Linked DNA regions of Homo sapiens: region 2 is linked to region 1. The links come from fine-mapping of genetic effects on gene expression. A gene starts in region 1. The other region holds a variant in brackets. All regions are shown on one strand. Distances are between the middles of the regions. Region 1 holds the start of ASB15 (ankyrin repeat and SOCS box containing 15). Region 2 has its middle 25 kb from the start of HYAL4.

What was found. PIP is the estimated chance that this variant, and not a neighbour inherited with it, causes the effect. A credible set is the group of variants that fine-mapping cannot tell apart.
Region 2: its variant is the best candidate, but not a certain one, in a credible set for the expression of ASB15 in skeletal muscle (GTEx, PIP 0.81).

What each region holds. Positions count from the first base shown.
Region 1 is chr7:123,591,426-123,607,400 of GRCh38, reverse strand. It overlaps ASB15 (ankyrin repeat and SOCS box containing 15), which reads right to left and starts at 5,580. Exons shown (of 12, transcript NM_001290258.2): 1 at 5,487-5,580; 2 at 3,189-3,369. It also overlaps a transcript of NDUFA5 not described here. RefSeq lists an enhancer at 12,332-12,626.
Region 2 is chr7:123,812,196-123,828,170 of GRCh38, reverse strand. It overlaps a transcript of HYAL4 not described here and the pseudogene HYAL6P. Among named protein-coding and RNA genes, the nearest start is that of HYAL4, 25 kb to the left of the region's middle. The variant C/A (reference allele first, on the strand shown) is at 9,861.

The DNA.
Region 1 (15,975 bases):
GAAACAACATAAATGTCCCAAAATAGGAAATTTGTATAAGACATTATTGTACACATAAAAATGGAATACTACACAGTTATTAAAATTCATATACTTGAAGAATATTTAACATTATATGTAAAGTGTTAGTTTAAGTATGATGTTTATTTAACCAGATATGACTAACCACTTTTAAGGAACTATGATGGATTTTTCCCCCAACTTTATTGAAGTATAGTTGACAATTTAAAATTATATGTATTTACCATGTACAACTTGATAATTCGACATATGTATACATTGTGAAATATTCACCACTATCAAGCTAAGTAAACTATCCATTCTGGCACATAGTTTATCTTTTTTGGGGGTATAGCTATTTTAAAAAACAGTACAAAGGTTTCTCAAAAATTTAAAAATAGAACTACCTTATGATCCAGCAATCTCACTTCTGTGTGTATATATCCAAAGGAATTGAAATCACTATCTCAGAGAGATATCTGCACTTCCATGTTAGTTGCAGCAGTATTTACGGCAGCCAAGATATAGAAACAACCTAAATGTCCATTGACAGATGAATAAATGAAGAAAATGTGCTGTGTATTTACAATGGACTATTAACCTTAAAAAAGAAGAGAATCTTGCCATTTGTGACAACATGGATCAACCTAGAGGACGTTATGCTAAATGAAACAAGCCAGGTACAGAGAGACAAATATTGTGATATTTATCTGTGGAATCTAAAAAGTTGAAGTCATAGAAAAAAGAGTAGAATGTTGGTTGCCTGGGGCTAGGAGGTGCTGGCCAAGGGGTACAAATTTCAGTTAAGCAGGATGAGTAAATTCTGGAAATCTAATGTACAACAATGTAACTGTAGTTAACAATATTGTATTGTATACTTGAAATTTGCTAAGGGTGTAGATTTTAAGAGTTTTCACCACCAGTAACAACAAGAAAAGTGAACTAAGATGGACTTTACAGAGGCAAAGCTTACAAAGCCCTCTCAGGAAAATTAGCTTAGCATCTACCTCTTAGGACTGAGCAGGCCAGGAACCTTGGTGACCTCGAGAAGAGAGAAGATTGCCCAAATGTACAGGAAAGCAGGTAGAACTTGGTGAAGAGAGTTTCTTGGCGTGGGAAGGAGCAGAAATTTGAAAGAGCAATTCATTTATCTGAATCGTCCAAGCAGTGGCTTCATTACCTAAGTTATTGTGTCTGTCTGCATGAAATCAATAGTTTATTTTCCATTAATTAGTGAGTGGTGGCTCCTGAGAAAGGTGAGGCCAGTTACAGACAATAAAAAAGCTACTTTTGGTTTGTGCAATTGAGTTGTAGGGTGAGTAAAAAACGTTTTGACTACATTGATTACCTATAGTAACAATAAAAATAATATCTCCAGACTTTTAAAAAGTATTATTTTTTTTAACTTTCATTTTAAGTTTTATCTTAACGTTTGTTATATAGGTAAATTGTATATTGCAAGGGTTTGGTGTACAGAGTATTTTATCATGCAGGTAATAGGCATAGTACCTCATAGGTAGTTTTTCTATCCTTGCCCTCCTCCCACTTTCGACCCTCAGGTAGGTCTTGGCGTCTGTTGTTCCCTTCTTTGTGTCCGTATGTACTCACAGTTTAGTTCCTACTTGTAAGTGAGAACATGGGGTATTTGGTTTTCTGTTCCGGTGTTAATTTGCTTAGGATAATGACCCTACAGCTCCATCCATGTTGCTGCAAAGGACACAATCTCATTCTTTTTTGTGGCTGGCTAGTATTCTATGGTGTATACGTACAACATTATCTTTATCCAGTCTACTGTCATTGTGCATTTAGGTTGATTCCATGTTTTTGCTGTTGTGAACAATACTGCAGTGAACGTACGTGTGCATGTATCTTTATGGTACGGTGATTTATATTCCTTTGGGTGTATATCCAAAAATGCGATTACTGGATTGAATGGTAATTCTGCTTTAAGTTCTTTGAGAAATCACCAAACTGTTTTCCACAGTGGCCGAACTAAGTTACATTCCCACCAGCATTGTATAAGCATTCCCTTTTCTCCATAACCTCGCCAGCATCTGTTATTTTTTGACTTTTTAGTAGTAGCCATTCTGACTGGTGTGTGAGATGGTATCTCATTGTGGTTTTGATTTGCATTTCTCTAATGATTAGGGATGTTGAGCATTTTAAAAAGTATTATTCTTATGCATATACACATAAATATTCATATACAAATATATATGCATATATTCTCTCCAAAAATATTCATTCCTGGCATAATGTATTTTGTTCAACATGACAAACAATCCTGTCTGGTGCTCAAGTCAAATTTTTTTCCCTTCAAAATTGATTCAAATAATAATGAGTCACTGCATTTTTTCATATCTTGTTTTGAAATCATGTACAGGCCATTGATTTCTTTCTGTTGGAGGCAGTTGAATATAACGGTTGAACCTTTGTTCAAATGCCGACCTGCCTGCATTAGCTGCCTGGTTAACTGTGTCTGACGTGTCACAAGTAGTCAGTAAACATTACCTGTTATTATTCTGTGATTGAACTCCTGTGGAATGGGAAAGTAGGATTCTAGTACTTTTTGAAAGTTTTAGTTCTATTCCTTACCCTTGAATATTGACCCTGACACCCCCATTTTATTTTCTTCTCCCTCCTTTTCCCTAGAATCACCAATTTTCAGAGTTAAAGACTGTCAGGTAGCCCCACCTGTAAATTTTATTTACAACATGCCCAATAAGTAATTGGTAGCCTCAGTTTGAACATCAAAGTGTCAGGGAGTTTGCTATCTCCTCACACGGTGCTTCTTCTTTAGCCAGCATTTTTTTTTTTTTTAGACAGAGTCTCCTTCTGTCAACCAAGCTGGAGTCCAATGGCATGATCTCGGCTCACTGCAACATCCACCTCCCAGGTTCAAGTGATTCTCCTGCCCCAGCCTCCCGAGTAGCTGGGATTACAGGAGCCCACCACTATGCTGGGCTAATTTTTGTATTTTTATTAGAGACAGGGTTTCACCACGTTGGTCAGGCTGGTCTTGAACTCCTGACCTCAGGTGATTCTCCCCCATCGGCCTCCCAAAATGCTGGGATTATAGGCATGAGCTATGGCACCCGGCCTAGCCAGATTTCACAATTAGGAAAACCAGTGAACTTGAATCCACTCTTCAAAACATTATCTGAAGATAATGTTTCTACTTCTCTTACCTTTTTCTGGTTCTCTTTCTCAGAGCTACACTGAGAAAGTAGTGTTCCTCTGCAACACAGGAGCCCTGTTAATATCCCCCAGGAAGGCTGTCAGATCTCCACTGAGCTTTTTCTTCCAGAGGCTGGACAACTGCTCTTCCTATAAGATGGCCTCACCTCCTGCACTGTCTTGACTGCTTTCCTGGAAACACATTTGTTTATCCATTTCTTTCTAAAAGTGACACTGAACCACAGGCTCTGAAGGCAACACAACAGCTACAGTCAGACCAACACAAGTTTAAGTGTTCCCTTTTCTCAAACACTATACATCTGTTAATTTAGTCCAAGTTCAGATAAATATTTAGGCTATTATGTTACAGACTTGATTTAGACCCCAGTATCCCAAAGATCTACAAGTCGTATGTTTTCCCCACGTTGTTTTCTGTGCAATTGTATGCAGGACCCTATTGGACTCTATTTATTCCTATTACATTTTATATTTTTTCAATTTGGCCTTTATTTCCTTCTGCTAAAATTGAATGCATTTTCTATCTCTCCAAGTATTGTTTTATTTGCTGACTTAATAAGCATGCCTTCTATATGTCCTTAAGCTCCACTGATAAAGATAAATGTTGAAAAGAAATTGGCAAAGGACAGAGGCCTCTATGTTGACATTGATCCATTATTTTGCACCCTCCCAGAAAAGGTGTTTATCCAGCTACAAACCCTCTTAAAGACACCACCACCTAGTATTAATGTCTCCTTTTTGATAATAAGACCATCATCAAGGAATATTGTCAAATACCTTGTTGTAATACAAATGCACAGTTATCTATGATACTACATTCCTTTGCTCTGCTAATCAAAAAGACAAAGGAAAAGAATTAACCCACCAATTCTTAGTGATTATTTTTTTCCTAAGGATGTTCAGACTATCCTATTTGTCCATGCAAAAATATACATTCAACGTCTGTTGTGTTCCAGGCACAGGGCTAGACACATATATATGGGATCCATGCCCTCAGAGAGTTTTCTGCCTTTAAATAATGTATTTTAGATTTTTCTCCAGAAATAATACCAATTTCTCTTTAAGGTTTAGCACACAGTAAAGCACATAGCATAGCAAGTCTTTAATAAGTATTTTTATATTGAGTTTAATAATTATTATAACTAATATCTATTGAGTGTTTACCTGTGATAGGGATTACACTAAGTGCATTAAATGGATGTCACTTAACGTCTATGACATAATTCTCCCCCACTTTACAGATGAGAAAACTGAAGCACAGAGTCATTAGGTAACTTACCTAAGCCCACATATCTAGTGGGCAGTGGAGAGTGGGATATAGCCCAGTCATCTGACAATGGAGGCCACACACGCTTAACCAGTATACTCTAACTATGACTCAGCTACTTTGAATGAATTAATGAAAAGAGGGTCTTATTTTGTAACCTAAAAATTCATAAACCTGAGAAAAAGTTTTCTCAAAAAGTTTAAGCAACTACCTAACAAATTCATCGAACAACTCCAGGGGAAATATAAAACTTGTAGGCAAATTTCTATTTGAAGATAAAATATTCTCATAAAATAACTGAAGTGTAAAATTATAATTTTTATCACAATAAATTAATAATCTCAGCACAAAGCAGTGATAAGATTTTTCTTGTCCACATCACTGCTTTACTTCGTGGAAGTCAAATCATTTTAGATATAGAAAGCTCCTTAGAAGTTAACTGTGCATTTAAGAACAATATGAGTGACGATATCAGATAAATTTTAAGGACTTTCCAACCTTTAGATTTTGTGATATAATTTGCAGGAGTAAATTTCCAATTCTATTCGGTTTATTTTTTAAAAAATCTAACTAATTTAAAGAAATGTTTCAATCTGGGCAGAAAGCATTCATCTTTTTCAACAAGTGATGAAAAAGCCTTAAAAGATTTATTTTATTTATTCACAAAAATTATTTAATTTTTTTTATTAGAAACCAAGAGGTGAGCTGAGACCCTTCTGGGATTCTATAGTAAATATATTGACATGTTCTATAAGGATACTCATTCTTAATCTGTTTTTCTCATGATACAATTTTTTATGCTTAGTAATTATGCAATTGAGTTGATATTCTATAAGCAAACAAATTCTAGCTTTAGTCTCTAATTAAAAAGGCTCTAAACAGGTAAGCCCGTAGGTGATCAAGTGGAAAGAAAGTAATGAGTAGCTACTATAATTTGTATTTCAATCTGTTTAAAATATTACCAATAATGAACTATTCAATAAGCTAGTTGGTGAGGTACAGATCAAATATTTCATAATCTCACCTTTTGGAATGATCATCTTGTCATTCTTATCCAGGGACTTGCCTTCCTAAATCAGAGGAAGTGCCCTGGAGCCAATGTGTGCTTCTGTGTATCTAAAATTAAGTATCCAGTTGGTGGTTAAATTAAGACCTGACCTTGTACAACTGAAACATAAGCGGTCTCTGGCACACGGTAAAGTATTACCCATGACTTCTCTAGACTCTCATCAAAAGAAACGCAAGCCTACAGAGGTATAATAAGATTATCTCTGTCCTGATTGGTTCAAAGAACTCTTATGAAAACAAAGGACCTGCCAATTCAGCTGCAGGGAGTGTTGCTACTGATGGAACAAAACCAAACCACTTGGAATTAACGCACAATTTAAAGGTATTTGTTCAAGAGACAAATCTGTAAGTCTTTGTGTTGTCAGAGCCTAATCCACTTTTGACATATTTTAATACACACTATTTTTCTTTCTCCATCTTTCAGATTCAGGTCAAATTTCATTAAATACAATCTTCTTGTCATACTAATTTGCTGTCTTTGATTTTTGTTTAATAATTGCTAGTCTGATATACAGACGGAGATAGGGCAGTCAGTGACATCTAATCTGATCAAGAATTTTTAGGTCAAGTTATTGAGCATATATAGTCTAAAAAAATGAGTAGCAAATGTATTAATAAAACAAGCAAAAAAATTGGGATTTTTAATTGAGGAAGGTTGTTTTCTTTTAAAAAACCAATTAAGTTTATTGTCTTACTGATTTTCCAATGAAAATAGTCTGCCTTAAATTTGTTTTGACACAGCTATCCTTGGATTAACTCAGGCCACCATCGGCACTCACAAAGCCATCTGGCCTCTATCCCCTACACCCCCCTACTAAAACAACTCGTTTTGCAGGTCTCAGTGACCTCTTTCTGACTTACATTAGAAACTCATTTCATATTTTATATTCATTTTCATTTCTTATTTTACAAACCCTCATTGGATTTGCTGCCAGTGATTCTTCCCTTTTTCCTGAAACTCTCTACTTCTTAAGCTACTGGGAGCACTACACGCTTTTGTTTTTCGTCTCATCTCTGACATTTTCTTTGTACTCAGTGTTAATGAATATAAATACGTGGATTGTAGTGAATTTGCCAGTTTTATTTCAAAAATTGAGAAACCGTAAATGTGAAATGAGAGGTCCTAACTCCTCTTTAACTGTGATAAAAGAAGGTGCGTTTCAGTCATCTTCAAAGCAAACTGAGAAGTATTTTATGTTTAAACCACTATTAACTGTGTATTGCAATAGTCAAGGGTAAAAGTTAGATCATTGCATACATTGTCTACATTTTATCATTATTAATCTAATTTGGAATTTTTCAATGAAGAATTCTTGTGAAAAGCAATCAGCATTGTGAAACACTTTAATTTTATACAACTTTTTTTTACTTACAATATTAGAAATTCATATAAAGCTTTAGAGTATAATGCAAATGTGTGGGAAAATGTGCACCTAACACTTTAAAGTGTGGCTTGACACATTGCAGTGACTTTTCTGCTCTTAAACTAATGATGGTATGCCTGTTTTATCCGTTTATATAATAGTTGTTATAGATCTACCTATACCATACAACATTTAAAATAATGCATATAATGATAGAAAAGCCAAAATAAGATCATGTGGTAAAATAAATGAGAGCCTGTTACTGAAGACATAGTCCTGTGAACACGTCTTGCTTTACCACTTACTGTTTCTGTAGATGCATTATTTACATTTTTGAGATTATTTATCTGTAGTATGGGAGTGATGATGATGATGATGATACAATGACCATGGCACCACCATTTTAATGAGGCCTATTCCTCAAGTAGTTAGTCATCTATGCACACACAATAAGACATACTTTGAGTAACTCATATATTTGAAAGAATGATCTATTCATAATGCTAGTAATCGCTTCCACATTTGCCTCTATGAAAGCTGGCTTTTCCTGTGGGTTTTCTCAAAGGGGAAACAAAATGAGTCCTAGCTTTTCAAACAGTGCCTCTAGTTTTGTCTGGTGAGAATGAGTTTCAGGGAGGGGTCAGATTTAACAGTGAAGGACTAGTTGAATACTACTGTTGTTCCAAGGAAGGTATACAAAATGACACTGACATCCAAATACGCATTCCTTCTATCTATATATAGCAAGAAATGCATGTACTGTTTCAAAATGATAATTATAGCAACTGATATGAAAGATGAAGAGTCTTAGGTTAAAATAGTTGAAGCACGGTGTTAGAAGAACTGTCCTTGGACCCACCTATTTCTATTTTGGGAATAAGAAATTTAGGTAGCATTGTTTGTGAATTTCCAGGGAGCAATGTGGCAGCTTGGCCTTCATATTTTAGGCACCTGCCACTGCTACAGCCTCACTTTGCCCACAGGTATTCTTTCTTCCTGAAAAAGAGTGTGGCACTTGCAGGCCTGGATTTTAAAAAACAGCTCTTGCTATGATTAGTCATACAATCCCATCTACCCTCTACAATGCCACTTATTAAGTCCTTTCTGATCCAGCCCATTCTTTATGAGGCTTTGTCAGAACTGGAGCTTTATCTTTGCCTTCTACAAAAAATGGTGTTGTTCAAACACCTTGGGGAGTCCTACTTTAAGTTATCCTATTATTTTTTGTTTGTTTTGTGTGTTTTTTTGGTATTCTTTTTTGTTGTTGTTTTTAAGTTATCCTCTTATTTTGTTGTTTAGTAAGCAATACCCATGTATATCTCTCTTGGCTTCATTTTCACTTTGGTATATTTCAGGCTTTCTCCTTTTTCTCCTTCTTTCTTTTTTGTACTTGACCATTATTTTGGCCTTGGGGTCAGTGATTTAAGAAATGCACATTTTATTTTGGTTAGGCATAAAACAGTAGAAAAGAATATAAAAACATAAAATAAATCCTTTATTTCTAGTATGCTTCCCAGAACCTTGGTAATTGTTTATTTTTGCTATGCTGTACGCTGTTTTTCCAGACTGAAAATCAAACAACTGAAAACATGAGCCAAATCTATTAGCACTGAACTCCTCCAACAGCACTGATGTCACAGGCCCCTGGAAGAATCCACGTTGTTGACATTACTCTGGTCATTTAGTTGCCATGTAGCCAAGCAAAGGCAAGTGACGGAAATAGTATTTTTTAGTAAGGTAGCACTATAGGTAGTTATACTAAATTAATGACAAACAAACAGTGAGGAAGATCCTGTATGGGGTTTCAGTTAGGGGTTTCAAAGTTCACTTTGTCTAGTAAAGTTTTTGGCACTCATCAAATATGTGTTGAATATTTTGTTGAACACTGATGACTTGTTCAAATGGGTTCGCAGTTATTTCTGTTTAACCAAAGTTTAAGTCAATTAAGGTTGAGTCACAATAAATTTTTTAAAAGCTGGTTGATCTTTTTTTTTCTTGTTTTTCCTTTTGCGAACAAAGTACTTAATTTTCACTATTGTGAAAGGCATTTCAAGTGTATCTAAGAGAAACAAACTTGGATTAAAAGGAGAGAATATGTATCTTAGTCTAAGTTCTGCCAGTTTTTGTGAATTAAGACAAATCATTTAGAGATATCTAAAGGTTTATACTTCAGTTTCCTACTGTGTAATAACACTGCTCTTGTTATTTCATATCATTGTTATCAAAATAAGGGCATAATTATGAAAGTTCTTTGAAAAACTAATAATCCCTATACAGATACAGGACTTATAGTCTAGATATAAAAGTATATTATACTTCCAGGGACATAAAATGGACATGAGGGAAACCATTGCATTTGGTTTTCTATTCTATATATACAGACACACATTTTAGTATATGCATAATGTGAGGCTAGGCACTTCTGGGAGTGTCATGATGGGTGGGACATGTGGTTCTAGTCCCAAAAGCTTACCATTGTATAGAGACAAACAAGTAGAGAGATGAGACCTAAGAAGGCTGTGGAGGAGAAGGTCAGAGAACAAAGACACACACACACACACACACACACACACACACACACACACACACGAAGTTTGAAAAGAGAAAATGGTTTTACATTAATGGATCATCAACCTAGAGTAGTTTCCCCATATCTGTGAAGGATTATTTTTTTTTCAGATGAAGTCTTGCTCTGTTGCCCAGGCTGGAGTGCAGTGGTGCGATCTCAGCTCACTGCAACCTCTGCCTCCTGTGTACAAGCAATTCTCCTGCCTCAGCCTCCCGCGTAGCTAGGATTACAGGTGTGTGCCACCACGTCTTCTAATTTTTGTATTTTTAGTAGATACGGGGTTTCACCATGTTGGCCAAGCTGGTCTCGAACTCCTGACCTCAAGTGATCTGCCCACCTTGGCCTCCCAAAGTGCTGGGATTACAGGCGTGAGCCACCACGTCTGGCCAGGGGAGGATATGCTTTAAGACTCACAGTGCTGAGTGCCTGGAAACACAAATAATACAGAACTCTATGTATGCTGGTTTTTTTCCTATACATAGATACTTATGATAACGTTTAATTTATAAATAAAGCACAGTAAGCAATTAACAACAATACTAATAATGAAGAACAATTATAACAACATACTAGCATCAATATTCTTGCAGCCATCATTAAATAAAATAAAGGTTCCTTGAACACAAACACTGTGATACCATCATGATTGATCTGACAATCAGGAAAACCACTAAATGTTCAGATAGGCTGGTGACATATGCAGAGTGAATATGCTGAACAAAGGGGTGATTTATGTTCTAAGCAGAACAGAGCAGGGTGACCCAAAATTTCATCACACTACTCAGAAGGGCATGCAATTTAAACTTATGAATTGTTTATTGCTAGGATTTTTCGTTTAATATTTTTTGACTAGGGTAACAAGCAAAACCGTGTGTAAGAGGGATTATTGTTTAAGAACCTTCCTTTTTCTTCCAGTCTCTTGTAATTCTGACTTCTTACATATCTCAGTAGTGCTAAGGCAAAGAGATTGTCACTATTCTTAGTACCTTATTTAATATAAACCAAGCCTAATTATAATCAGGACTTAAAATAAAGCTCTATATTGGCAACCAAAGTAAATTTTGAATTATTGAAAATTCAGTATTGTACTCTATTCTCTCTGAAAATAATTGATCTTTTCATGTGCATTTGTGTTTTGTTTCAATTTCTAATTGAAGTTGCTAATGCGTAATGACATTTAATTAATATTTGATTGTAAAAAGCATTTTAACAGTACATACTATAGAAGAAATTATATAAATTTAACGAAGAAAACTTAGCACAATAAATTCAAATTTTTCTTTTTCTCTTTCTTTATTTTTTCCTTATTATTACTATTATTATTTTGAGACAGGGTCTCCCTCTGTCACTTAGCCTGGAGTGCACTGGTACGATCTTGGTTCACAGCAACCTCCGCCTCCCAGGCTCAAGTAATCATCTCGCATCAGCCTCCTGAGCAGCTGGGACCACAGGCATGCACCACCACATCTGGCTAATTTTTTTTTTTATTTCTTTTGTAGAGATGGGGTTTGACCTTGTTGTCCAGGCTGGTTTCAAACTCCTGAGTTCGAGCAATCTACCCACCCTTCAAAGTGTTGGGATCACAGGTATGAGCCACTGCACCTGGCCTAAATATTTCAATGTAAATCCATCCTTTCTACCATTAAAAGATGTCACTCTTGCCTCTTGTGGATTCAGGTCTTTATATTTCAAATTGGAGCCACCACTTTGTGTATGTTAAAACAATTTTTAATGGTCTCATGATTTGCCTCCCCCCAATTTTTTTTTCCAATATAAGAGGTAAATTTAGTAATTCCTTTGGGAAACTAGAAAAAGTGTGATGATTTATGCTAGTTTTAGATTTATCTTTAGTAGAACAGTATAAGTACTGAGAAAAAATATTCTGAATATTCCCAAAGTATTTACTACATATTTGGCTTAGTTATGGCTTGATTTCAAGATTTAAAATGTAATTACCATTCAAATAAAGCAAAATTTTACATTTCCTTTATGTATACATTAATATAAAAAGTATTAAATCAGATTGAGTTTTGAGGTTTGGTTAAGCTGTTTTTATGCAGCTTGGAATGTCTGGGTAATTTTCCAGTCTTGAAGATATGGCCCATTCACCCACAGTGTAGACAAATACTTTCAAGGGGGCTTTGGGTGGGAAATGATAGTGAATTGGCTCACTAGCTAAAGAGCATTTACAAAGTCAAGAATGGTAGGATCCAGAGAAGTAGATGAATGTGGGATTCTCACCAGTGCAGTATTTAACAAATATTGACCATCTGCAATGCCAGGTATTATGCTGTGCACTAGGTATGCCAATGAGCTATATCAAGTTCCTGTCACTGAAAAGTTTGTATTTAAGTAGGTGAGGTGAATGTTACATAAGTAAGAAAATGAATTGTGGTAAACTCTGTGAAGAAAATAAGCATGACGATAGTTGGTCATTGAAGTGGGGAGGCTTCCTTCAGAAAGGATAGTCTGAGAGGGAACACATCTGTGCTGAGAACTTTCACAAAGAATAACCCGACACAGAAAGGTATAGAGGACAAACTTTTAGGAAGATGAAATGTAAGTTTAATTTTACTTTTTGTCATGAGGCAAAAAGGATGTGCCATGTTGAAGGGATCAACCAGAGAACAAATGAAAGTGAAGATCATCAAGGGATGGTAGGGATGGGAGGTGGGCCATGGATAAAAGCTTGGGTTTTATTACAAGCACATGAATTGAATGGCTTTAAGTTAGGGACTAATAATCTGGCTTATTTTTAAACAGTGATCAGTGTCATTTAGGGCAAGTGTCATTTAGGATAAGTGTCATTTAGGCCTCCCATGCCTGGCTCAGCGAGTTCCACGTCCACGGAGCCTTGCTTGCTGCTAGTGCAGCAGTCTGAGATCGACCTGGGATGCTGGAGCTTGGCGGGTGGAGGGGCATCTGCCATTGCTGAGGCTTGAGTAGGCGGTTTTATGCTCACAGTGTAAACAAAGCGGCAGGGAAGCTCGAACTGGGTGGAGCACACGGCTGCTCAGCAAGGCCTACTGCCTCTCTTGATTCCACCTCTGGGGGCAGGGCCTATCTGAACAAAAGGCAGCAGACAGCTTCTGCAGGCTTAAACGTCCCTGCCTGACAGCTCTGAAGAGAGCAGTGGTTCTCCCAGCATGGCATTTGAGATCCAATAATGGACAGACTGCCTCCTTAAGTGGGTCCCTGACCCCCGTGTAGCCTGACAGGGAGACTCCTCCCAGTAGGGGCTGACAGACACCTCATACAGGCAGGTGACCCTCTGGGACGAAGCTTCCAGAGGATGGATCAGGCAGCAATATTTGCTGTTCTGCAGCTTCTGCTGGTGATACCTAGGCAAACAGGGTCTGGAGTGGACCTCCAGCAAACTCCAACAGACTTGCAGCTGAGGGGCCTGTCTGTTAGAAGGAAAACTAACAAACAGAAAGGAATAGCATCAACATCAACAAAAAGGACATCCACACCAAAACCCCATACGTAGGTCACCAACAACAAAGACCAAAGGCAAATGAAACCACAAAGATGGGGAGAAACCAGAGCAGAAAGGCTGAAAATTCCAAAAAGCAGAATGCCTCTTCTCCTCCAAAGGAACACAACTCCTTGCCAGCAAGGGAACAAAACTGGACAGAGAATGAGTTTGACGAGTTGACAGAAGTAGGCCTCAGAAGTCGGTAATAACAAACTTCTCTGAGCTAAAGAAGCATGTTCTAACCCATTGCAAGGAAGCTAAAAACCTTGAAAAAAGGTTAGAGGAATGGCAAACTAGAATAAGCAGTGTAGAGAAGAGCTTAAATGACCTGATGGAGCTGAAAACCACAGTACGAGAACTGCATGAAGCATACACAAGCTTCAGTAGCTGATTTGATCAAGCAGAAGAAGGGATATCGTGATTGATGATCAAATTAGTGAAATAAAGCGAGAAGACAAGATTAGAGAAAAAAGAGTGAAAAGAAATGAACAAAGCCTCCAAGAAATATGGGACTATGTGAAAAGACCAAATCTATGTTTGATTGGTGTACCTGAAAGTGACGGGGAGAATTGAACCAAGTTAGAAAACACTCTTCAGGCTATTATCCAGGAGAACTTCCCCAACCTAGCAAGGCAGGCCAACTTTCAAATTCAGGAAATACAGAGAACGCCACAAAGCTATTCCTCGAGAAGAGCAACCCCAAGACACATAAGTGTTCAGATTCACCAAGGTTGAAATGAAGGAAAAAATGTTAAGGGCAGCCAGAGAGAAAGGTCAGGTTACCCACAAAGAGAAGCCCATCAGACTTAACAGTGGATCTCTTGGCAGAAACCCTACAAGCCAGAAGAGAGTGGGGGCCAAGTATTCAACATTCTTAAAGAAAAAAAAAGAATTTTCAACCCAGAATTTCATATCCAGCCAAACTAAGCTTTGTAAGTGAAGGAGAAATAAAATCCTTTATAGACAAGTAAATGCTGAGAGATTTTGTCACACCAGGCCTGCCTTACAAGAGCTCCTGAAGGAAGCACTAAACATGGAAAGGAACAACGGGTACCAGCCACTGCAAAAACATGCCAAATTATAAAGACCATCGAGGCTGTGAAGAAACTGCATCAATTAACGGGCAAAATAACCAGCTAACATTATAATGGCAGGATCAAACTCACACATAACAATATTAACCTTAAATGTAAACAGGCTAAATGCCCCAATTACAAGACACAGACTGGCAAATTGGATAAAAAGTCAAGACCCATCTGTGTGCTATATTCAGGAGACCCATCTCACATGCAAAGACACACATAGGCTCAAAATAAAGGGTTGGAGTAAGATCTACCAAACAAATGGAAAGTAAAAAAAAAGCAGGGGCTGCAATCCTGGTCTCTGATAAAACAAACTTTAAACCAACAAAGATCAAAAGAGACAAAGAAAACCATTACATAATGGTAAAGGGATCAATTCAACAGGAAGAACTAACTATCCTAAATATATATGCACCCAATACAGGAGCACCGAGATTCATAAAATAAGTCCTTAGAGAACTACAAAGAGACTTAGACTCCCACACAATAATAATGGAAGACTTTAATACCGCACTGTCAATATTGGACAGATCAATGAGACAGAAAATTAACAAGGATATCCAGGACTTGAATTCAGACGTAATGCACATCTACAGAACTCTCCACCCCAAATCAACAGAATATACATTCTTCTCAGCACCACATCGCACTTATTCCGAAATTGACCAAAAAATTGGAAGTAAAACACTCCTCAGCAAATGTAAAAGAACAGAAATCGCAACAAACGGTCTCTCAGACCACAGTGCAATCAAATTAGAAATAAGGATTAAGAAACTCACTCCAAACTGCACAACTGCATGGAAACTGAACAACCTGCTCCTGAGTGACTACTGGGTACATAACAAAATGAAGGCAGAAATGAAGATGTTCTTTGAAATCAATGAGAACAAAGACACAACGTACCAGAATCTCTGGGATACATTTAAAGCAGTGTGTGGAGGGAAATTTATAGCACTAAATGCCCACAAGAGAAAGCAGGAAAGATCTAAAATAATCACCCTAACATCACAATTAAAAGAACTAGAGAAGCAAGAGAAACAAATTCAAAAGCTAGCAGAAGACAAGAAATAACTAAGATCGGAGCAGAACTGAATGAGACAGAGACACAAAAAATCAATGAATCCAAGAGGTGGTTTTTTGAAAAGATCAACAAAATAGATAGACAGCTAGCAAGACTAATAAAGAAGAAAAGAGATAAGAATCAAATAGATGCAATAAAAAATGATAAAGGGGATATCACCACTGATCCCACAGAAATACAAACTACTATCAGAATACTATAAACACCTCTACAGAAATAAACTAAAATATCTAGAAGAAATGGATAAATTCCTGGACACATACACCCTCCCAAGACTAAACCAGGAAAAAGTTGAATCTCTGAATAGACCAATAACAGGTCCTGAAATTGAGGCATTAATTAATAGCCTACCAACAAAAAAAAGTCTGGGGCCAGAAGGATTCACAGCCAAATTCTACCAGAGGTACAAAGAAAAGCTGGTACCATTCCTTCTGAAACTATTTCAATCAACAGAAAAAGAGGTAATCTTCCCTAACTCATTTTATGAGGTCAGCATCATCCTGATACCAAAGCCTGGCAGAGACACTATATAAAAAGATAATTTTAGGCCAATATCCCTGATGAACATCGATGTGAAAATCCTCAGTAAAACACTGGCAAACCGAATCCAGCAACACGTCAAAAAGCATATCCACCACGATCAAGTTGGCTTCATCCCTGGGATGCAAGTCTGGTTCATTATACACAAATCAATAAATGTAATCCATCACATAAACAGAACCAACAACAAAAACCACATGATTATCTCAATATGTGCAGAAAAGGCCTTCGACAAACTTCAACAGCCTTTCATGTTAAAACTCTCAATAAACTAGATGTTGATGGAATGTGTTTCAAAATAATAAGAGCTATTTATGACAAACCCACAGCC
Region 2 (15,975 bases), 220 kb before region 1:
TACATTGTATATAGGGTCCAATGATAGTAGGTAAGAATGTCTTCCCACAAGTCTACCATTGGGTATTTCATTGGTGTGTCCATAGCATTGGGCTTTAACTCTAGGACACATTTCTACAGATTAATGATCACATTGTGCAGCTAGGATGGGCAAACCTAATTGAAATGATATTATCAGCTAATCCAGAAGAGCCTGGCAGGAATCTTGATAAATGTCTGCCTTGATCCATACAGGTAGGACCATGGAAAAATTCTAGTAGATTAATTAATAACATAAATTGAGTTTTCTATTAGCATTTAATTATTTATTTTATCAATATTAAAACTAATTCATAATTAAAAACCAATTAAGCTTAGAACAGTGGGATATTTTCTCAGTAAGAGGAGGCCCCAGAACTGTGACTCCATCTGGTAAAGATTTGGGAGATTCAAATTGAAAGTCATAAGGCAGAATAAAGCTCTTAATTGACAGGTAGTTGAACGAGGCCAGCACTTTGGCAATAGCAAATTCTGAAGATCATGTAAGCAATATTATTTGTTACAGGCACATTCAATCGGAGGCAGTCTCATACTATGTTTAGAAACACATGCTGTTTTTAGTCAGGACAGGACTCCTTGTCTGAGGCATCTGAGGAGGTTTCTAAGAAAGACACAATAAAATAAAACAGGCAAACAATTGAAGCAAAGGAAAGAAGGAAGGGGAAAAGGGCAGTTGGGAAGGAAAAAGAGGAAGGACGAAAAAGCAACCAAGAAAGACAAAGGTCGGCAGGAGTCAAATGAAGACAACACAGAACACTGGCAAATATAATCAACTTCAACTTGGGCATTCCCTGTTCTGTTGCAGCCGCCCTCCTTGAAATACCTTCTTCACTTAGCTTCCAGAACATCACATCCCTGTTTTATCCCCAACCTCACTAGATGTTCCTTCTCAGTCTTCTTTACTGGCTCCTGTTCATCTTTCCTACATTTAACACTGAAGTGCCCCTGGCTTAAATCTTAGACCTCTTCTCTTCTATAGCTGTACTATTTCACTGGATAAGCTCACCCCATCTCATTAGTTTAAATACAACCCCCAAATGTGTACCACCCAGACCTTATCCCTGAATTGATTATATACCCACCTATTTACTTGACATCTCTACCTGGATGTTGTACAAGCATTTCAAACTTAACATACTCCAACATAATCTGACCCTCTTCCCAGACTTCCCCATCTCAGCATAAGCCAACTCCCTCTTTCCAGTGCCTCAGGAGCAAAATCTTGGAGTTATTCATCACTCCTTTTTCCCCTTACAGTTAATCCATCAGCAAGTCCTTTTCAGTCTACCTTTGAAATATATCCAGAATTCAACCCTTGCTACCATTCTGTTTCAGATCACTACTAGCTCTCGCCTGGATGATTGCCTCCCAACTAGTCTCCACAATCTGTTCTAAATACAGTGAGCATACATATATTTCTCTCTATAATTAAGTAAAATAGGAATCAATAATAAAAGAAGTAGACACAAAAATCCTAGTTTTTTACAGATTAAAAATATCCTCCCAAGTAGCAATTTGGTCTAAAAGGAAATTTTTAAAATTACAATTTCAAATTAATTAGAAAAATAAAAGCAACTGGAATACTACATGTTAAAATGTGTTAATACATCCAAAGTAATTTTCAATGTCAATGCCTAGTCATAAGTGCTTTTGTTTACCGGGCAATCCAATTATCAAACCAGAAACAAGGCATTTTGGCATTGGCTTTCACCTGGACTCCCATTCAGCTATACAGCACTGTGTACTGGTAGCTGATGGGGTACTGAGTGGCTTGCTTTCCATTTACGCTTTTTTCCATGCTTCCTGTTCCCCCAACTCTCTGCATCTTCTCAGTCATTTTTCCACTCTTAGAAGCTCCACCTTAGTTGCTACCTGCTGCATTGAATCAGTGCATTTCCTATCTCTATCTCATTATCAGAAGCTGGTCACCAATTTCCCAGAACCCAGCAAGTGACATTCTACCCATTATGGCAAACTTTCTTGACATTCTGTGTATCTGGAGCATTAGCTAAATATATAAAATTAGCTTCTAATTTTAAATCTTTATCCAAAGAAATGTGCACCTTTTTGTGGAAGTTTATCTTCTACTCTGTCTTTGGATCTGGAAAAAATGTCCTAACATTTTAAAGCATGCTAATACTAGATGCAAAAGTAACACTTTTTATTGCAATAGTTTTGATTATTTAACATAGAGGAATAAAATAATAAATTTAACAAGCATTCAAGAAATTAGAAAAATAATTTTTTAGAAAGCAATCTCATGAAAAGAAATAATAAAGTTAAAAGTATAAATTTATGAATTAGAAAATTGAATTGATAAAGAATAGGTCTTCAAAAAAAGAAAACCATCAAACATTTATATCTGACAAGCCTAACTAATCAAAAAAGGAAGAGACATGATTGATTGATTGACTAAGTGGTTCAACTCAAGCTCCAACTCATTGATAATGCATAGCTTGAAGCATCTACCCATTGTTTCACCCTTTGTGACATGGTTGATTCTTGGGGCATAGTCAGCCCTTATCATAAAACTATTAGGTGTGACTATATCCACCCTAAACAAAGATATCCCCAGATTACCACCCAGAAGCCAAGGACAAAGGCCAGATCTCTCTTTGGGAAAAGCCAGATTCTTTATAACCCATTGTCTCTCCATCTCACTACCTCCTCTTCTATTTTACTATGAAAGTTTTGATTATATCAACCTTAATTATTGCTTCTAGAGTTGGATTTGTCAGCCTCTTGGATGTGATTACATGGCTATTTCAGCTGCTCTAAGGAAAGATGATCTGTATTTAAAGATTTACATCAGGAATCTAAAAGAGAATTTTGTCTATGTGACAGTTTGGATTTAATCAGACCATCCCAAATACATGCTTCAATTAGGGGAAACCTGTTACACCATTTATATGTAACGTGGTTAAAAAAAAGACAGGAACTTTACATATAATTTATAAAAATCTAAATACATTTTATATATATAGATTTATCATAGATATATATATAGAGAGAGAGAGAGAAAGAGAGATTTCACCTGAAACCCAAAGCTGAAGACAGTGGGGTTGACAACTAAGGAGTTAGAGACATTTACCCATCTCCAGCATATATAAATGGCTAGAAATTATCAGGGCAGAAGGAATGTTCTGTGAAAGGAATTTGAAGTAGAGAGCACTGTCCTAGAACCACACGGGAACTACTGGGAGCTTGGAGGCTGACATGTTTATTTATTCACTCTGCAAATATTTATTCAGCACACATTATTATGTGCAAAGCTCTGCTACAGGTTCTTGGAATAAAGACACTGAGGAGAGATGACAGCAGTGGGAGTGGCCTGCCTTCATGTAATTTAACAGAACAAGGGTACAGGAGTATTTTCATGATCCAAGTGGATTTTACACAGGTAGCCAGGCATGCATCTTCCTGAAAAGTCCAAGGGCAAAGGGAATGTAGGAGGTACTTCTGGGGAAGAAGTAAAGGGGAAGTTTCAAGGTGGTAGCTAAAGCCTGCATTGTTCAAAGCAGAGAATGGTGTCATGTGCGGGGGTGAAGGAGGTGGTGGTGAGAGTTGTGGGGAGAAGGGGGTTTCCTGTAACCAAATTGCAGCAGCGCTTCATGTAAGAAAAAGTCAGCCACTAAATGGCAGCCGTATCAAAAGGCTTTCAGCAGGAAAGATAATTACTAATGTCATTAAACTTAAAAAAATTATATTGCCACCTTTTCTCATCCTCATCCCCATCTTCTAAACCCATCTTTGAATTAGCTGAACAAAAGAACTCACCATACCCCTCTTCTCCACACCTCAGATCCAAGCCTGGTGTGTGGGGAAGAGAGGTAAGAAGTAATAATCAACACTTACATGGCACTTGCCATCTGCCATGTACAGTTTTAAGTGCTTTATATATATCAATAGTGTAATTCTCATAAAAGTCCTATAGGAGAGATACTATTATTTCTTTCATTGTATAGATAAAGAAATTGAAAAGTCAATTACTTGATCAAGGTCACACAGCTAGTAGGTGACAAAAAGTGAGCATTGAAACTCAAGCAGTCTCATCACAGGACTCCTGTTCTTAACAATGCTGACATCCTAACTTGTGTCACACTGAATGAAAAGAGATTGCTATTTTTATATTTTATAAGACTAGACATTTTAATTCCTGAAACTGAGACTGTTTGTTAATGCCTGGAAGTGAGGAAGAGCTGTGGTCTCAGAATTTTCACTTAAGCAGTGGGATGGATGACCATACTCAAAGGCAGCTTTAGAAAAGTAGTAGTTATTTTGTGAAAATTAATAGAGTTATTTTGTATGTACTATCTAGGTAACTCGGGATAACCTAGAAGAAATGAATAAATTCATATATATATAAATATATGTGTGTGTGTGTGTGTATATATATATATATAAAATATATATGTGTATATATATAAATATATATGTGTGTGTATATATAACTTCTAGAACTAAAAATGAAAAAACAAATAGAATATCTGAATAGACCAATAACGAACATGGAGACTGAATCATTAATCCAAAAATTCCCAACAAAGAAGAGCCCTGGACCTGAAAACTTCACCAGTGAATTGTGCCAAACATTAAAACAATAATGCTAATCTCTCTCTAACTCTTCAAAAATATTGAAGCAAAGGAAACACTTTCAAACTCACTTTATGATGCCAGCATTACCCTGATACCAAAGCAAGGCAAAGATGCTGTAAGAAAAGAAAATTATCAGCCAATATCCCTGATGAAACTGGATGCAAAAATCCTCAACAAAATAATAGCAACCCAAATTCAATAGCACATTAAAAGTATCATACACCATGATCAAGTAGGATTTATTCCTGGGATGCAAGGATGATTCAACACACACAAATCAATAAATGTGATATACCACATAAACAGAATGAAAAATAAAAATCCTATGATCATCTTACTAGAAGCAGAAAAAGCACTTTTTAAAAATTTAACACCCCTTCACAGTAAAAACTCTTAAAACAATAGGTGTAGAAAGAATGTGCCATAACATACAAAGGCCACATATGACAAGCCCATAGCTAACATCATAGTCAATGATGAAAAGTTGAAAGCTTTTTCTCTAACATCAGAAATAACACAAGGATACTCACTCTAATCACTTCTCTTTTATTCATTTTAATTTAATTATTTTTCTTTAACAGATGGAGTCTGTCACCCAGGCTGAAGTGCAGTAGCACAGTCATAGCTCACTACAGCTTTGAACTCCTGGGTTCAAGTCATCCTCCTGCTGTAGCCTCCTGAGAAGCTAGGACTACAAGCACACACCAACACACCTGGCTAGTTTTTTCTTTTTTACCTTTTGTAGAGATGGGGTCACATTATGTTGCCAAGGCTGGGTTTGAACTCCTGGCCTCAAGCAACCTTCATCCCTCAGCTTCTCAAAGTACTGGGATTATAGGCATGAGCCATCTCATCCAGCCAACTCTGACCACTTCTATTCAACGTAGTACTAGAAGTCCTAGCTAGAGCAATTAGGCAAGAAATAAAAATGAATCTGAATTTAAAATTATTCTTGCTGCAGATGATATAGTTCTATATATAGAAAACCCTAAAAACTACAAAAAATGTCATAAGTAATAATGAAATTCAGTAAGGTTGCAGGATACAAAATCAACATACAAAAATTAGTTGAATTTCCATCTATTAATAGTGAGCCATCTGAAAAGGAAACTAAGAAAACAATTCCATTTACAATACCATTAAAAATAATAAAATACTTAGGAATAAACTTAACCAAAAAAGTGAAAGACTTGTACATCAAAAACTACATAATATTGATAAAAGGTGTTAAAAGAGACATAAATAAAAGATAACCTATGTTTATGGATAGAAAAACTTAATATTGTTAAAATGTCCATACTATCCAAAGTGATCTGCAGGCTTGATGCTATCCCCATCAAAATCCCAATGGCATTTTTTACAGAAATAGAAAACAAAAAACTAAACTTTATATGGAACCACAAAAGGCCCAGAACAGCCAAAGTAACCTTGAGAAAGAAGAACAAAACTGGAGGCTTCATATTTCCTCATTTAAATATATATTACAATTCTACAATAATTAAAACACTATGTTTCTGGTATAAAGGAAGATATACAAGTCACAGGAACAGAATAGAGAGTCCAGAAGTAAACCTACACATATATGATCAACTGATGTTTGACAAGAGTGCCAAGAACACAACAGAGAAAGGATAGTCTCTTCAAGAGATGGAGTTGGGAAAACTAGATATCTGTAGGCCCAGAAATGAAATTGGATCCCTATCTTATACCACACACAAAAGTCAATTCAAACTGGACTAAAGACTTATTTAACATTAGACCGAATACTGTAAAACTCCTAGAAGAAAACATAGGGAGAATGCTTCTTGACACTGGTCTTGGAAATTATTCCTTAGACATGACACCAAAAGGACAGGCAACAAAAAGAAACATGGACAAATGGGATGCATCAAACTGAAAAGCTGTTGCACAGCAAAAGAAACAGCAGTATGAAGAGATAACCTACAGAATAGTAGAAATATTTCCAAACCATATGTCTGATAGAGGTCAATATCCAAAATATATAATGAACTTCTATGACTCAGCAAAAAATATATATAACCCAATCAAAGATTAAGCAAAGGACTTGAACAAACATTTCTCCAAAGAAGACATACAAAGAGCTAACAGGTATATGAAAAGACGCTCAAAATCATAATTATTGGGGAAATGTAAATCAAAACAATGAGCTATCACCTCACACCTGTTAGGATGGGTATTATTTAAAAAATAAAAGATAACAAGTGTTGAAGTTGTAGAGAAATGGGAACCCCCATACCCTGTTGATGGGAATGTTAAATGGTACAAGAGCTATGGAAAACAGTATGGAAGATTCCTCAAAAAATTCTAACTATAATAACTACTATATGATTCAGTATAAATGCATATATACTTCTGGATATATAAAAGAAGTGAAATTGCAATCTCAAAGAGGTGTCTGCATTCCCATGTATATTGCAGCACTATTCACAATAGCCAAGAAATGGAAACAATCCAAGTGTCTGTTGACAGATAAATGAATAAGGATAATTCGGTATATACATACAATGAAATATTAGTCAGCCTTTTAAAAGAAGGAAATAATGTCATTTATGACAACCAGATGAACCTGGGGGACATTATTCTGTGTGAACTAAGGCAGTCACAGAAGGACAAATGCTACATGATTCTACTTACGAGGTATCTAAAATAGCCAAACTCGTAGAAGCAAAGAACACAGTAATAGTTGTAAGGGGCTGAGGGTGGGAGAAATGAGAAATTGTTATTTAAAGGTTGTAACGTTTCAGTTATGCTAGATAAATAAGTCCGAGATATGCTAGTTTAGTTACGCTAGATAAACAAGTTCGAGAGATCTCCTGTACAACATAGTGTCTATGGTTAACAATATATTAAGCACTCCAAAATTTAAGAGGGTAGATTTCATATTAAGTGTTCTTATAATAAAAGGGGGATTGGTAATTTTTTTTTTTTTTTTGAGATGGAGTTTCACTCTTGTTGCCCAAGCTGGGGCACAATGGCACAATCTTGACTCACCGCCAACTCTGCATCCCAGGTTCAAGCGACTCTCCTGCCTCAGCCTCCTGAGTAGCTGGGATTACAGGTGTGCACCACCACATCCAGCTAATTTTGTATTTTTAGTAGAGACGGGGTTTCTCCATGTTGGTCAGGCTGGTCTCGAACTCCTGACCACAAGTGATCCACCTGCCTCGGCCTCCCAAAGTGCTGGGATTACAGGGATTACAGGCGTGAGCCACCGTGCCCAGCCAGAACAGAGTAGATTGTTAATAAACCTTTATATACAAATAGATTTTTCTCCCACATGCATTTCTATAATAGGTAATCAGCAAAGTAAAGAATCATTTTTGGGCCAGGTACAGTGGCTCATGCCTGTAATCCCAGCACTTTAGGAGGCTGAGGCGGGCAGATAGCTTAAGGCCAGGAGTTTGAGACCAGCCTGGCCAACATAACGAAACCCTGTCTCTACTAAAAATACAAAAAAATAAGTCAGACATGGTGGCACATGCCTGTAGTCTCAGCTAGTCAGGAGGCTGAGTCACGAGAATCACTTGTACCTGGGAGGCAGAGGTTGCAGTGTGCCAAGATTGCGCCACTGCACTCCAGTCTGGTGACAGAGTGAGACTGCCTCACAAAAAAAAAAAAAAGAAAAAAAAAGAATTATTTATCATTTTTGGAGAATCTGCCCTCAGTGCAAATGAAATAATTATTCATTTTTAAAATTTATTACTTTTTGTTTGTCACATATATATTATGCCATTTAATCTACCAAAATCCTGCAGAGGAGGTTTTATTTTAGTCTAATTTTTTAGATGGAGAAGCTGAGACTCAGAAATGTTAACTAACATGCTCAAAATTACACCCCTAGGACATAAACATCAGTTTCTCACTTAGCTGTCTGATTAGAATGATTGTGCTCTTTCTACCCTTCTACTAACCACAATGGCTGGTATGGAGTAGGTGCTCAATGTTAGACCCTGTACTTTTTGAATTTCACTAAGGTCAAGTAAGCAGATAATCAGCAACCATTTGACTCTGATGCGAAAAAAAAAATGTTTTTAAACCAATCTCAAAAGTATATTCAAGTTGCTGACAGAGAAATCATTGCTTACCTTTGAAGCAGAATATTCATATCCTCCCCACAATATTACTCCTGCTGCCCCCAATGCTGCACTTTCGCCAATTGCATGCACTAAGTCCTCCTAGAAAAGAGAGGTATCAGGAGTAGTTTCCACCAAGTCAAATTTTGTCAGTGATAATGCAATAATAAGACTCAATCCCTCAACTGTGGTAAGGAACACGTTAATAATGATATCTTTGTTTCCAAAACAAAGGACTGTACCACAAGGTAAATACTGCGTGATCTCACTCAGATAGAATCTGAAAAAGTTAATCTCATGGAAGTAGATAGTAGAATGGTGATTACCCGAGGCTGAGGTGGTTAGGAGGGAGAGGGGATTGAGGAGATGTTGGTTAAAGAATACATAATTACAATTAGATAGGAGGAATAAGTTCAAGAGATCTATTGTATAGCATGGTGTCTATAGGTAATGACAACATATTGTATTCTTGAAAAATGCTGAGAGAGTGGATATTAAATGTTCTTAAAATAAAAATAACTGTGAGGTCATGAATTTGTTAATTAGCTAGATTTAACCATTCTGCAATGTATATGTACCTCAAAACATTATGTTGTATATGATAAATACATACAATTGTATATGTCAATTAAAATATAAATTTTAATACACAGAAAAAAAGGCATTTCTTTTAAATAAAGCTATCATACAAAAAATAAAACAAAAGACCATACCAGAATTGGAAAAGGTGATACTGCCTTGGATTCTTAGATTTATTTGAGAAATATTTACAATGTTCCAGGCAATATTCTAAACACTGAGAATATAAAAATGAAATAGATTTCAATTCCTTTTCTTGAAGGAATGCTTTTTAGTCTAATGGTTGAGACAGACATATAAACAAGTGACTATAACATAATAATTTTTATATTAGTAGCACTCACAAAACATATATAAATTAGAAGTGCTTAATACTTCATGGAAGAGTCTGGGAAGGCTTCCTTAACACGTTAAATTTCATATGACTCTTGGGAATGAGAATCAGTAGACTCTTGAGAATGAGTATGAATTCACAAGACAGTCTAGAGAGAGCAGAGTTTTATATCCACAGGAAGAATAAGAGCAGAGACTTAGATCCAGGCAAAATCACAGT[C/A]CATCCAGAGAACTCCCAGTACTTCCTTGTGGTAAAGCACACAGAATTTGGAAAGTAAAAACATATGAATTTCTATGTATAAACAGAATCCAAATACAAAGAGAAAAATGCTGTTTTAAAGTGTTAAGACAACTGGTCAGGTGCAGTGGCTCACGCCTGTAATCTCAGCAATTTGGGAGCCCGAGGCAGACAGATCACTCAAGGTGAGTAGTTCGAGACCAGCCTGGCCAACATGGTGAAACCCTATCTCTACTAAAAATACAAAAATAGCCAGGCATGGTGGTGCCTGCCTGTAATCCCAGCTACTCGGGAGGCTGAGGCAGGAGAGTCTCTTGAATTCAGGAGGCGGAGGTTGCAGTGAGCCGAGATCCTGTCACTAAACTCCAGCTTGGGTGACAGGGCGAGACTCCATCTCAAATAAATAAATACATAAATAAATGTTAAATATTTAGTGCTGGAAAGACACAAATTTGCAACTTTGATTTTTTTTTTCTTTTTGCATATAAAGAATGCATTGGAAGATGGGTAATCCCAGCACTTTGGGAGGCTGAGGCGGGTGGATCACCTGAGGTCAGGAGTTCGAGACCAGCCTGACCAAAATGGTGAAACCCTGTCTCTACTAAAAATACAAAAATTAGCCGGCGTGGTGGCACACGCCTGTAATCCCAACTACTCAGGAGGCTGAGGTGGGAGAATCACTTGAACCCAGGAGACGGAGGTTGCAGTGAGCCAAGATCATACCACTGCACTCCAGCCTGGGTGACAGAACGAGACTCCATCTCAAAAAAAAAAAAAAAAAAGAAGAAGAATGCATTGGAGGGGAAGGTCAAGATAGTACAGGCAGGAACACCAATTAGGAGGTGATAGAAATTGTTCGGTGAGAAATGATGATGCCTCAACAAAGGCAATGTAAATCCTTGTAAAGCAGAGGGAATAGATTGAAGAGTTATTTGGAAATAAAGATGGATAAGTTTTAGTTACCCATCCGATAATGGAAAGAGGAAAAGGGAGGCAGCCAAGTGACTTTCAAATTGGGTGACTATATAGATTACAGTTCATAAAGATAAGAAACCGAGGATGTTATGCTAATGTATATAGGCCAAGAGCAAAGAAGTAGGAAATAGGGAGAGATGGGAGATAAAGGGGATGACCAATGGTGCAATCTGCATTCTTTTCTCCCCTACAAGGTATGGAGAGTCAGAGATCCAGTGCAAAGGTGGAGTGCTCACAGACTGCAATGAGTAAATTGTCACGCCACTGTAAGCTTTCCTGCGTTATAGGAAGGTTTCAGCAATACTGGCATTTATGTTCTGCAATTTGTCTAAGTAATACAACAAGAAAGGAAATCATTCTTCCATTATACTGACTAATATCACATTCCTTAAACCTAAATGTAGTCGCTTATTTTAATTGAGACACTCCTGAAAGCAAATACCAAACAGGACTGGTTTAAAAAAAAATGCGTTGGAAAGTTATGTTACTTAGACCAAAGGTGAGAAAAACCCATACTGTTTTTTGATATATGATACATGGAAGGCAATTAAAACAATTCAATATAATGCTCAGGTGATTCTATATATTTTGGTGAGTAGAGAATGCAGTCTATTGATTTCTCAAGTAGAGCTCAGAGGTGATACTTAGCATATAATTTACTTTAAAAGTCTAATGTACCCACAAAAATTAAAAATAAAAAAGATTAAAAAGTCCAATAGTACAAAAAATAGGAAAGCAATGAACAAGGCTTTTATGAAAATGTGGCTCATCTCATTCTCCCATTTTCTCTCAAGGTGAACTCTTTGACTGCATGAATTATTATTATTTTCTACTGTTATTACTAATAACATGTAATTCCTGACACAAGGTAGGCACTCAAGAATTTCTCAATGAATAAATATAACCCAGGTTATTTTTCTGAAAAGGATTTAAGATAGTAAAATGATTTGAGAAAGCTGGCATCACTTGAGGAATACCTTAGCAAGAAGACTTTGGTAGGCAGGCCTGATATCCTAAAATACCTGGACAACTGGCTTTTGAAAGAAGGATTTGCTGTATTCTATGTTGCACCAGAAGGTAGAATTAGAACTAGTGGTATGAAGTTATTAAGAGGCAAAGTAGATTAAATATACTTAAAAACTTTCTAGGAATTAATATTTCCCCCAAATGGCAGTTTCCCTTCTAATATAAGAAGTGCCCCCATCAAAAAGTGTTAAAGTATAAGAAAGGGTTTTTATTTGGGTAGGAGATGGGTTAGTGCCCATGAGATTCTTCCAAATTTTTGTCATAATGCTATGATTCTTTTCCTTCTAAACTTATTGAATGAATAGCCCATTCTGAATAATACTGAGTAATCCTGCAAAGATGAATATGTCAAGTCTAATTAATAATTGGATTTTATTCTGAAATATTTAGGAAGAATTGCTACTGCTTTTAAATGGCCTTATCTCAAACCTAAGTGGTCTAAGTGAGCTGTGTATTGTCCATACAACAGCTCTGCTTCTGTGTTGGGTACTGGCATAAAGTATTGTTGGCTCTCAGGTATAGATGGAGATTTGAGGATTTTCTTATCTAGCCACCTATCCAATGATTGAATCCTTACAAGAATGTCCTATGTGACAATCTAGTTAAAGTTTGGACACTTGCCATGTCTTCAAACTTATTATCTTCTAAACAAGCTCATCTCCACATCTGTAGGCTTCCAGCTTTGTGTTCAGTCTAAAGACAATATCTGTCTCCTTATATAAACCAGTTTTAATGCCTTGACAATAACCACTAGATTGCATTGTTGACTGTTAAAGACAAAATCAAGAGAACCTATGTAATTTTTTTAGTTAGCCTAGCTAATTAAAACATACAAATGCAATATAATGAGAAATGTAGTTGGTTAATAATTTACCCTAAGCTCTATGTTGCACGTTTTTGATTTGGAAAATTGCTGTTACCTTTTCATATTAAGAAGTTAGTTCTAAAATTTCTCTCTGGTTAAAATTAATCTGTCTGTTACATTATTTAAATCAAGTTTAACCTCTGTTCTGTAGGAAACTCCTGTGAATGCTAAGCTGGTAAGAATCATTATCCAAAAGTGTTAAGTGTACATCTAATTGTCAGTGACATTTTTCAGAATTGAGTTGACATTTGAAGAAATATACATGTTTAATAAGAGAACAGCATTGTATTGCTAAGGGAAAATAAATATCCTAAAACATTTATGTATAGGCTTTATATAGTTATTCTACCAAATTTCCATTTTTTTTAAATGTGAGTGACTGTGCTTTTCCTTACCTGTGACAGAGCTTCAGTACTATGCAAATAAAATGGTCTGGAAAAAATAAAAACTGGCAAAACATAGTCATGTCTAGCCATTTCAGCAACCCTCATGGCTTCTCTAACTCGATAGTGAACAAATTTCAAAGCATTTAAGCTTGACTTCAGTATTTTATCCAAATGTATTGAAGGATAAAGTGCTGCGCTTTTTTCCCACAGCCACAATTTGGACAATTACCTGTGTACGTCTCTGGATTTATTCTGTAATCATAATTGTAGCAGTCTGGATAGAGATAAAAGCCCCATAAACATTTTGGTCTCATTTCTAAAGCCAATGTGAGAGTAATGTTCATGAAATTTTTTCCAGCATTTTCAAATTCCTCTCGGGCAACTGTTTCCACTTTCATTTCTGACCAATAAGGATGATGGTTTCTAGTGAAGGCTAAAGAGTGGTTTTTATATATTATTCTGCTGCCCTGATTTCTATCCCATTGGGGTTTCCAACTTTCCCAGTCAATAACAACAAGTTCTTCTGATCTCCACCAAGGGACACCTTCTCCAATGTCATCAGCAGTTTTCCTAAGGTGTTCAGAAAGGCTCACATTCTGCGGTATTCCTCCATTAAAGGATTTTCCATCTTGAGATAAGTAAGGGTAATACCCTAATTCATTTGGATAAAATATGGCAATTTTTGACCCACTCTGAGTCTCTAAAGGATTTGATATAATGTTAAATACTTGAAGATTTATATCCACGTTGAAGGAAGGCATACAATACATTGTTGGGGCTGCCCAGAAAATGTTGAAAGGCTGGCTCTTGATCACCGGAGGCATTGCTGGTTTGAGGGCTGCCTGAGTTAATAGGATAAAGAGTGGTAGCACTCCTAACCACGCCACCCATGGGTTACACATGGCTTGAGGTTTTCAGCATTACAGCAGTCTCCTTGAAAATAATAAGCAAAATATCATACATAATGGAGTCAAATGTCTCTTAAGTTTTGTGGTATACAATGAATAGACCAAATATTTTAAAATATCTTTGAGGCTTATTAATATCTATGCCAATTTATAGTGAAATGTGAAAAAAATATATACTCAATAAAAACTATAAAAAGTTTCACACATTTGTCAGCTATGCAAACTCTAGCTGCTAGCCATTCTGGTTTTAATTTCCTATGATTCTGAATACGCTAACCCAAACCTTCTTGTACTGACAAGCCTTCACTGGCTCTAAGAGGAACTAGAAAAGAAGTCTGAATGGATTGTCATATCTCCTTATTGATTACTTACAAAGTGACTCCAAGAACATGCCCACTTGAAAATTAACAAATATTGGGATTTTAACTAATATTAAATAGAACAAAAAGAAATAACTAACTGTACTAACAGTAAGTAATACTTTACATGCAATTTGAAATGCACTGGCTTCAAATGTTTATTTTTAAAACAGAGAGCAGTTACCCTTGGAACTAGCATAGGCTGAAATAAAAAACAAGTAGAAATGTTAATTACCCTGTGTTGATTATGGATTTTGGTGCTATCATCTTCTTAGGCATATAAACAAGCCTAAAATCCTATTAGTTCTTTAACTCCAGTGGTTTTCCTATAAAGAAACTGGATTGTATATTCAGCAGTTAAACCCTAAATAAAACTTGTCTCTTTAGGCCCCTTTAACTAGTCTGTTGGGACGAAAACTGCCAAAGAATCTTCCCAGAATATAAGGACTATCTAATAGTTGATGCATTCCAGCCAACAAGATCTCATCCTGAAAGCAATATGGTTTCAGTTACATATCAAAATTATCTTATCGTATGGATTTTTTTAAATAAAGGAATTTATTTTAAACAGATTTTTCTCTGATATAATTAAACTCAGTTTCTTTTTAAGAATCATACATTGTTTCTCATGTAGTTCTTGGTGTCTTTATTTAACGTACTAAATTCAGGAAAGACACCAACCAAAATTGTACGCTAACTCTCACAACATAGCACCCCAAGTTTGTAAAGAAACTTGAGTTCAAGTCGTATGCTCTCTGTACACTGAATTTTTAAATTAACAAATGTGAACGATAATTTACTCTTTTAAATAAATTGGATATTATTGAGACAATTGCCTTCATGTGGAGTGTGTATTATAGCACCAGATGAATCTCTAAGCTATCAGAGATGGTTTTTCTCCCATCACTCTTCTCTAATCATGGGATCTTAATTTGACTCCCACTCCCCCACAAAAATATAAAGGCAAATCTTCTTCATTCTTTATTTGTTGTTCAGGGAAAATGAAAGAATATCTACTCTCCATAAATATTATTCTTTACCTCCCTCTGGTCATGACTGCACATTGCGTATATATATGCCTAATAAACTGACACCCTTGGGAACAAAAAACACCTTTTTAAAATGTCATATCACAATAAATTTTTTAGAGCCAAAGGGCCTAAAAATACAAAATATTGTACTTTAGTAAAATACTGTTACAAATTTCCTCTTCTAGGAGATTTTCATTATGTTTTCCATGTATATAAATGATACACAATCATCTATTTTTCTAGCTAGCCTATGGAAAAATTATTTTGGCATTATTTTGGTCCCTAGTCTACATTTTATAACAGACTTCTACTACAGTAACAAAAATATGCATTATAATGGTATGCATTTTTAAATATAATGAATTCTTTCTACATGCTGCTGAGATTTTATTTTTTCTAGCTATTTTTATTATTCAAAATATAAAACTAGATCTACATTTTTCCACTTATAAAATATATATACTAATACATGCATACATATATACACACATACACTTGAATTTTTGTTCAACAAATCTGATATGTTTCAGGCAAGTAGCCAGGTCTA